Homo sapiens: one gene and its partner. The protein of the gene in region 2 interacts with the protein of the main gene of each other region in a pairwise test. Each region holds a gene or a part of one and is shown on either strand. Other genes may lie near its edges. The genes, in order: LARP4 and ZC3H7A.

Region 1 (3,818 bases), on a different chromosome or scaffold from region 2:
TGCTTTGTGTCAGGAACGTTTGATGTTTTTGCATATATAGATATCTGTACATCTTAAGTCTCAATATCTCTATGAGGTGTTAGTATCCCCATTTTAGTGATAAGTAAGGCAGCTGGGCGCAGTGGCTCATGCCTGTAATCCCAGCACTTTGGGAGGCTGAGGTGGGTGGCAAATCACCTGAGGTCAGGAGTTTGAGATCAGCCTGGCCAACATGGTGAAACCCCATCTCTACTAAAAATACAAAAATTAGCCAGAGGTGGTGGCACACACCTGTAATCCTAGCTACTCGGGAGGCTAAGGTAGGAGAATCGCTTGAACCTGGGAGGCAGAGGTTGCAGTGAGCTGAGATGGCACCACTACACTCCAGCCTGGACAACAGAGTGAGACTCTGTCTCAAAAAAAAGAAACTAAGGCACATATAATTTAAACTTGCCTAAGTTTATACAGCTAGTGAACATGGAAGCTTGTATTAGAACTCATCAACCACCTACTTGTATTGGAGTAGAATATATTGCAGACAAGGAATCAATCCTATGTAAATAATACTTAGATGCAACTTTTTAAAACCTGGCCTTGGGCCCAATGTGGTGGCATGTACCTGTAGTCCCAGCTACTAGGGAGGCAGAGGCAGGAGTTTCGCTTGAGTATGGGAGGTCAAGGCTGGAATGAGCCGTGATTGTGCCACTGCATTCCAGGCCGGGTGACAGAGCAAGACCAACTATATTGACTTCAGTAGATTATTGGTTTGTTTTATTTTTTTCCTCTTGAGACCGAGTCTCGCTCTGAGACCGAGGCTAGAGGGTGGCGCAGTCTCAGCTCACTGCAACCTCCGCCTCCTGGGTTCAAGCAGTTTTTTTTTTTTTTTTTTTTTTTTGAGACGGAGTTTCCACTCTTGTTGCCCAGGCTGGAGTGCAGTGGCGCCATCTCGGCTCACTGCAACCTCCACCTCCTGGGTTCAAGTGATTCTCCTGCCTCAGCCTCCCGAGTAGCTGGGACTGTAGGCGCATGCCACCACGCCCAACTAATTTTTGTATTTTTAGTAGAGATGGGGTTTCACCATGTTGGCCAGGATGGTCTCGGTCTCTTGACCTCATGATTCGCCCACCTCGGGCTCCCAAAGTGTTGGAATTACAGGCGTGAGCCACCACACCTGGCGGGTTCAAGCAGTTCTGCCTCAGCCTCCCTAGTAGCTGGGACTTCAGGCATGTGCCACCATGCCTGGCCTTTTTTTTTTTTTTCCTGATTTTTAGTAGACACGGGTTTCACGATGTTGGCCAGGCTGGTCTCGAACTGCTGACCTCAAGTGATCCGCCCGCCTTGGCCTCCTAAAGTGCTGGGATTATAGGCGTGAGCCACCGCGCCTGGCAGATTTTTTTTCCACCTCTGTTCTGAAGGAGAAACAAACAATGTCCCTCTCTGGAAAGAGGTAAAAGTTTGGATGATTCACAAAGTCATCAAACATGACCTGCCATGAATTCTTTTACAACAAATTGTTTGTAAGTTTGAAACTGCAGTGTACTACCTTCATCTGAATGCTATCAAGTTACTTAAAACTTGTGAGCCCTAAGGAGGCAGATAGTAATTTAAAAAAATTTTTTCATTTCTCTCTTTTATTTACAGTTTTTTTTTTAATTTTTAATTTTTTGAGACACAGTCTCGTTTGCTGCAGCCTCCACCTCCCCAGCTCAAGTGATCCTCCCACCTCAGTCTCCAAAGTAGCTGGGACTATAGACATGTACCACCATGCCTGGCTAATTTTTTTCTTTTTTGGTATTTTTTGTAGAGACAGGGTTTTGCTTTTTTGCTCAAGCTGAAATTTTTGTTTAAATAAAAAAAATTAAAACTAGAGACTGGGAAGGGTGGGTATGCAGTGACTACTGAAATTGGGTTTCTGTCTCTGTTTGAGTTTTTCCCTGAAAATGAAGACAGTTGTCCCTCAGTATTTGTGGGAAATTGGTTCCAGGACCCTCTGTAGATGCCAAAAACCTTGGATGCTCAAGTCTTACATAAAAAGGCATAGTATTTGCGTAGCACCTATGCACATCTTTGTGTATATGTTAAATAATCTCTAGATTATTTATAATACCTATTAAAATGTAAATGCTTTATAAATAGTTGCTATACTGTATTATTTATAGAGTGATAAGAAAAAAGTCTCTACATTGTCAGTACAGATGCAATGATTTTTTTTTCTGAGTATTTTTGATTTGTGATTGATTGCTCCACTGATACAGAACCTATGGATATGGAATTCATGGATATGGAGGGCCAACTGTACTTACTTACTTAGGTAGCAGTTAAGTTTCATACGACCTAGGACGCTTTAATAACTCTTAAATAATTAAAACATATTTTAGGTTGGGTAACGTGTCTCATGCCTGTAATCTCAACACTTTGGGAGGCCGAGGTGGGAGGATAGCTTGAGCCCAGTAGTTCAAGACCAGCCTGGGCAACAAAGTTAGACACCCCCCACCCCCACCCCCAACCTCTACAAACAAATTTAAAAAATTAGCCAGGCCTGGTGGCATGTGTTGTGGTCCCAGCTACACTTGAGGTGGGAGGATCACTTGAGCCAGGAGATCGAGGCTGCAGTGAACCATGTTCATGACACTGCACTCCAGCCTGGATGACAGAGTGAGACCCTGCCTCAAAAAATTTTTTTAAATTATTATTTTATTATTTTTTAAGAGACAGGGTCTCACTGTGTTGTCCAGGCTGGAGTACAGTGGCTATTCACAGGTACAGTCATGGCACACCATAGCCTCAAATTCCTGGGCTCAAGCAATCTGGCCTCAGCCTCCTGAGTAGCTGGGACTACAGGCTCATGCCACCAGTTAAAAATATTTTTAATTGTGAAATACATATAACTTAAAAAGTATCATCTAACAGTTTTTTGTTTTTTTGAGAGAGAATCTTGCTCTGTTGCCCAGGCTGGAGTGCAGTTGCATGATCTCGGCTCACTGCAATGTCTGCCTCCTGGGTTCAAGTGATTCTCTCACCTCAACCTCCCCAGTATAGCTGGGACTACAGACGTACGCCACCATGCTGGCTAATTTTTGTATTTTTAGTAGAGACGAGGTTTCGCCATGTTGGCCAAGCTGGTCTCAAACTCCTAACCTCAGATCTACCTGCCTCAGCCTCCCAAAGTGCTGGGATTGCAGGCTTGAGCCACCGCGCCCAGCCCATCTTAACAGTTTTTTTGTTTGTTTTTTGAGATGGAATCTTGCTCTGTCGCCCAGGCTGGAGTACAGTGGCATGATCTCGGCTCACTGCAACCTCCGCCTCCTGGGTTCAAGCGATTCTTCTGCCTCAGCCTCCTGAGTAGCTGGGACTACAGGCGCGTACCACCACGCCTAGCTATTTTTTGTATTTTTAGTAGAGACGGAGTTTCACCATATTGGTCAGGCTGGTCTCGAACTCCTGACCTTGTGATCCACCCTCCTCGGCCTCCCAAAGTGCTGGGATTACGGGCGTGAGCCACTGCGTCTGGCCGAAGCTTTGTTTTCTTTAAGGTTTAAACTAATTTAAGAGAAGTATAACTTCTAAGTTTTCATCTCAGCCTTGTTACTAACATACTCTGATTTAGGGCAAGTCAAACAATTTATAATTATTTAAAGTTTTTTTTATAGTTGGAGAGTATACTTTTGGTTGGGCAAATAAAAGTTTTAAAAGAGGAATGAAGATGGCAGTATGTTAAAATACACATTTACTTGCAGCATTTAAAGGAGTACAGCTGGGCGGGGTGACTCATGCCTGTAATCCCAGAATTTTGGGAGGCCGAGGCAAGTGGATCACTTGAGGCCAGGAGTTTGAGACCA
Region 2 (3,818 bases):
TTAGCATTTATACCCAACTGAAGCAGGTTGATGGATGACTGGAAAATTTAACTCTTTAAATGCCATTTATTATGATGTAAATGGTTACGATGTAAACAAATAAACTATAAATTCCATACCTGAGGCACTGCTAAGGAGCACTTTGCTACAGCATCGTAAGCCTTTTTGTATCTTCCTAAATCACTTAAAGCCTTAGATTTCCGATACAGAGCTTTGCAGTTACTGGCATTTAAACTGAGGACTATATTGCAGTCCTCCAAAACTTTATCATGGAAACCCTGGTGTGTAAGACCAAAGAATAAAGTCAGCAATCAAACAATTCATTTCTTGCACTGAGGCCTTCCTGTAATAAAAACAAATTAATACCCCATCCTATTACCCTCCCTCTAAACTCCAAGTTAGCAGTATTACTTTTATTTTTTAAATTATTTTATGAAATTTCAAATACAAAAAAGTAGAAAGAATATCATGAATACCCATGTACACACCATCCAGGTCAGACAAATGCTAATATTTGGTCAGAAAGTCCCCAGATCTTCAAGAAATAAAGCTTTCCAGACCTAACTGATGTCCCCATGTGTCCCTCTCCTATTCGCTCCTCTGTAGTTACCCTTTGCTGGAGCACATTAAGATGTCAAACAGAAACGTAACTCCAAACAGCTAACTGATAAGGAATATATTACCCAAAACAAAATAAATAAACAATGAATGCTCTTTAACAAAGAGCTAGGTGACAACACGGATATTTTTCTTAAATTCATGGTTATATTTTACCGAGTATCCACAGTGAAAATTAAAAGCACTTCAGGTTGGGCACAGTGCCTCACAGCTGTAGTCCCAGCACTTTGGGAGGCCGAGGTGGGTGGATCACCTGAGGTCAGGAGTTCGAGACCAGCCTGGCCAACATGGTAAAAACCCCATCTCTACTAAAAATACAAAAATTAGCCAGGCGTGGTGGCGGGTGCCTATAATCCCAGCACTCGGGAGGCTGAAGCAGGAAAATCACTTGAACCCAGGAGACAGAGGATACAGTAAGCCGAGATTGTGCCACTGCATTACAGCCTGGGCAACAGAGTGACACTCCATCTCAAAAATTTAAAAAAGGTGGCCAGGCGTGGTGGCTCATGCCTGTAATCCCAGCACTTTGGGAGGCTGAGGCGGGCAGATCACCTGAGGTCAGGAGTTCGAGACCAGCCTGACCGACATGGAGACACCCCGTCTCTACTAAAAATACAAAATTAGCCAGGTGTGGTGGTACATGCCTGTAATCTCAGCTACTCGGGAAGCTGAGGCAGGAGAATCTCTTGAACCCGGGAGACGGAGGTTACGGTGAGCCAAGATTGTGCCATTGCACTCCAGCCTGGGCAACAAGAGTGAAACTCTTGTCTCAAAAAAAAAAAAAAAAGTTTTAAAAGGAAAAAAAGAAAAAAAAGCACTTCAAAAGCTTTTAAGCTTAAAAATGTGAAAATCTAGTGTGAATTCCTTTGAAGACTAATTACTATTTCTTGATTTAAAAAAACACTCGCCAGGCACGGTGGCTCACGCCTGTAATCCTAGCACTTTGGGAGGCTGAGGCGGGCAGATTGCCTGAATTCAGGAGATCGAGAACAGCCTGGGCAACACAGTGAAACCCCATCTCTAACAAAATACAAAAAATTTGCTGGGCACGGCGGCATGCGCCTGTAGTCCCAGCTACTCGGGAGGCCGAGGCAGGAAAATTGCTTGAACCCAGGAGGCGGAGGTTGCAGTGAGCCGAGATCGTGCCACTGCACTCCAGCCTGGGTGACAGAGCGAGACACTGTCTCAAAAAAAAAAAAAAAAAAAAAAACACTCGTAAGAGTGTTTTTTACCAAGAGTGTTTTACAAGATCAACTGGATCTTGACTAAGATGTTAACTGTGAACAGGGATACCTGAAAGACACACTGACCTGTGAAGACCTGTATCTTCCCTGGATGACTTTTTTATAAGCAGACACACCTTCAAAAGCCATACTCAAATGGGAATCATCAAGGACCAATAACTAAGAAACAAATTATTTCTTAAATCCCTAACCTTCTGTCCAAAGCTAATTTTTATTTTTTTATTTTATTTTATTTTTTGAGACGGAGTCTTGCTCTGTCGCCCAGGCTGGAGTGCAGTGGCACAATCTCGGCTCACTGCAAGCTTCGCCTCCTGGGTTCAAGCGATTCTCCTGCCTCAGCCTCCCGGGCAGCTGGGACTACATGCACACGCCACCATGCCCAGTTAATTTTTTTATTTTTAGTAGAGACGGGGTTTCACCATATTGGCCAGGCTGGTCTCAAACTCCTAACCTCATGATCCACCCACCTTGGCCTCCCAAAGTGCTGGGATTACAGGCGTGAGCCACCGTGCCCGGCCAATCCAAAGCTAATTTTTAAAAGCCTCAAGCCACTCCAAAAGCAGGTAATATGACTTTCTTAAAAACTTAAGAAATTGACTTTTTATTAATGTACTAAGTCATTGAAAAAATTCTTTTCACTCTAGAAACATCATTTTAAAAATTACAACTCACCATATTAGAATAGCAGGCAATACGATTTATATATAGTTTTTCAATTATTTCTTTGGGGATTAAAATTTCTTCAGATTTTGCATAATCAGCTATATTCAAGGCTTCCGTGTACTGGCTTATCGAGTTGTTCCAATCATGTTCCCGATAAACGTCATTTCCTTCATTAAAAAGATTTCTCACGAGAGCACGCAAATATACCTAAAAAAAAGAAAGTTACCACTTGAAGCCTTTTATCAAACAAGATATGGTATAAGTAAATTTTAATTTTTATACCTAAAACTTCACAGGAAACAATGTGACAGAACAGCAGCATTGCTCTAAGAAATTGTGAGATGCAGCCCAAGTCACTGCTATCTCAGCTAGGGATTGAATCTTGCTTGCTTTTTCAAGGGGAAATTCAATTTCTCACTATTAAGAAAAATGCAGCAAAGTACCTTATAAATATTTGTTCACATCTCCAATTCTGTGCCCGCTAGAGAAACCAAGTGGAAGCCCCAAGTCAAAGAGAATGAATAGTTTAAGGCTTTTGAGCAGTATTTCCAAATTGCCTTCCAAAAAGGCCATGATGAAAAATGTTTCTAGTGGTTTACTTTATAGCACCCATACACACTAGGTAGTGTGTGTGTGTGTACACGTGTGTGGGTACCCGTGCACATATATGTAAAATCTACCAATTTCTAGGTGGAAAATGGTATCGTTTTGTGTTTATTTATTTTTTTTAATGGTATCCTCTTTGTATGTGCATGTCTTTACCAGTGAAGTTGAACTATTCCACATTTTTACGGACCCCTTGTATTTCTTTTTCTGTAAATTGCTCAGGTCATTTACTGATTTGGGGGGAGGGGGATGTTAAACTTTTTTCTTATCAAGTAAGTATACACATTCTTTTAGCATGTATAAAAGTTTGTCATTTTCCTTCATTATTTCTATCACGCTTTAGTTTAGTTCTTTTTTTTCTTTTCTTTTTTTTTTTTGAGACAGAGTCTTACTCTGGCACCCAGGCTGGAGTGCAGTGGCACGATCTCGGCTCTCTGCGACTTCACCTCCTGAGTTCAAGTGATTCTCGTGTCTTAGCCTCCCGAGTAGCTGGGATTACAGGCACCTGCCACCACACTCGGCTAATTTTTGTATTTTTAGTAGAGACAGGGTTTCGCCATGTTGCCCAGGCTGGTCTCAAACTCCTGGTCTCAAGTGATCCGCCTGCTTCAGCCTCCGAAAATGCTGGGATTACAGGTGTGAGCCACCACGCCTGGCCATAATTTAGTATTTTAAAAGCTCTTTTTC

The links.
Region 1: the proteins of ZC3H7A (region 2) and LARP4 interact in a two-hybrid assay, tested with the Homo sapiens proteins (one large-scale study listed by BioGRID).

What each region holds. Positions count from the first base shown.
Region 1 is NC_000012.12:50,403,832-50,407,649, forward strand, and holds part of LARP4 (la-related protein 4), read left to right. Parts: intron 1-3,818. UniProt on the Homo sapiens protein: RNA binding protein that binds to the poly-A tract of mRNA molecules. Associates with the 40S ribosomal subunit and with polysomes. Plays a role in the regulation of mRNA translation.
Region 2 is NC_000016.10:11,776,632-11,780,449, forward strand, and holds part of ZC3H7A (zinc finger CCCH domain-containing protein 7A), read right to left. Parts: intron 2,733-3,818; coding exon 2,535-2,732; intron 279-2,534; coding exon 120-278; intron 1-119. UniProt on the Homo sapiens protein: May be a specific regulator of miRNA biogenesis. Binds to microRNAs MIR7-1, MIR16-2 and MIR29A hairpins recognizing the 3'-ATA(A/T)-5' motif in the apical loop.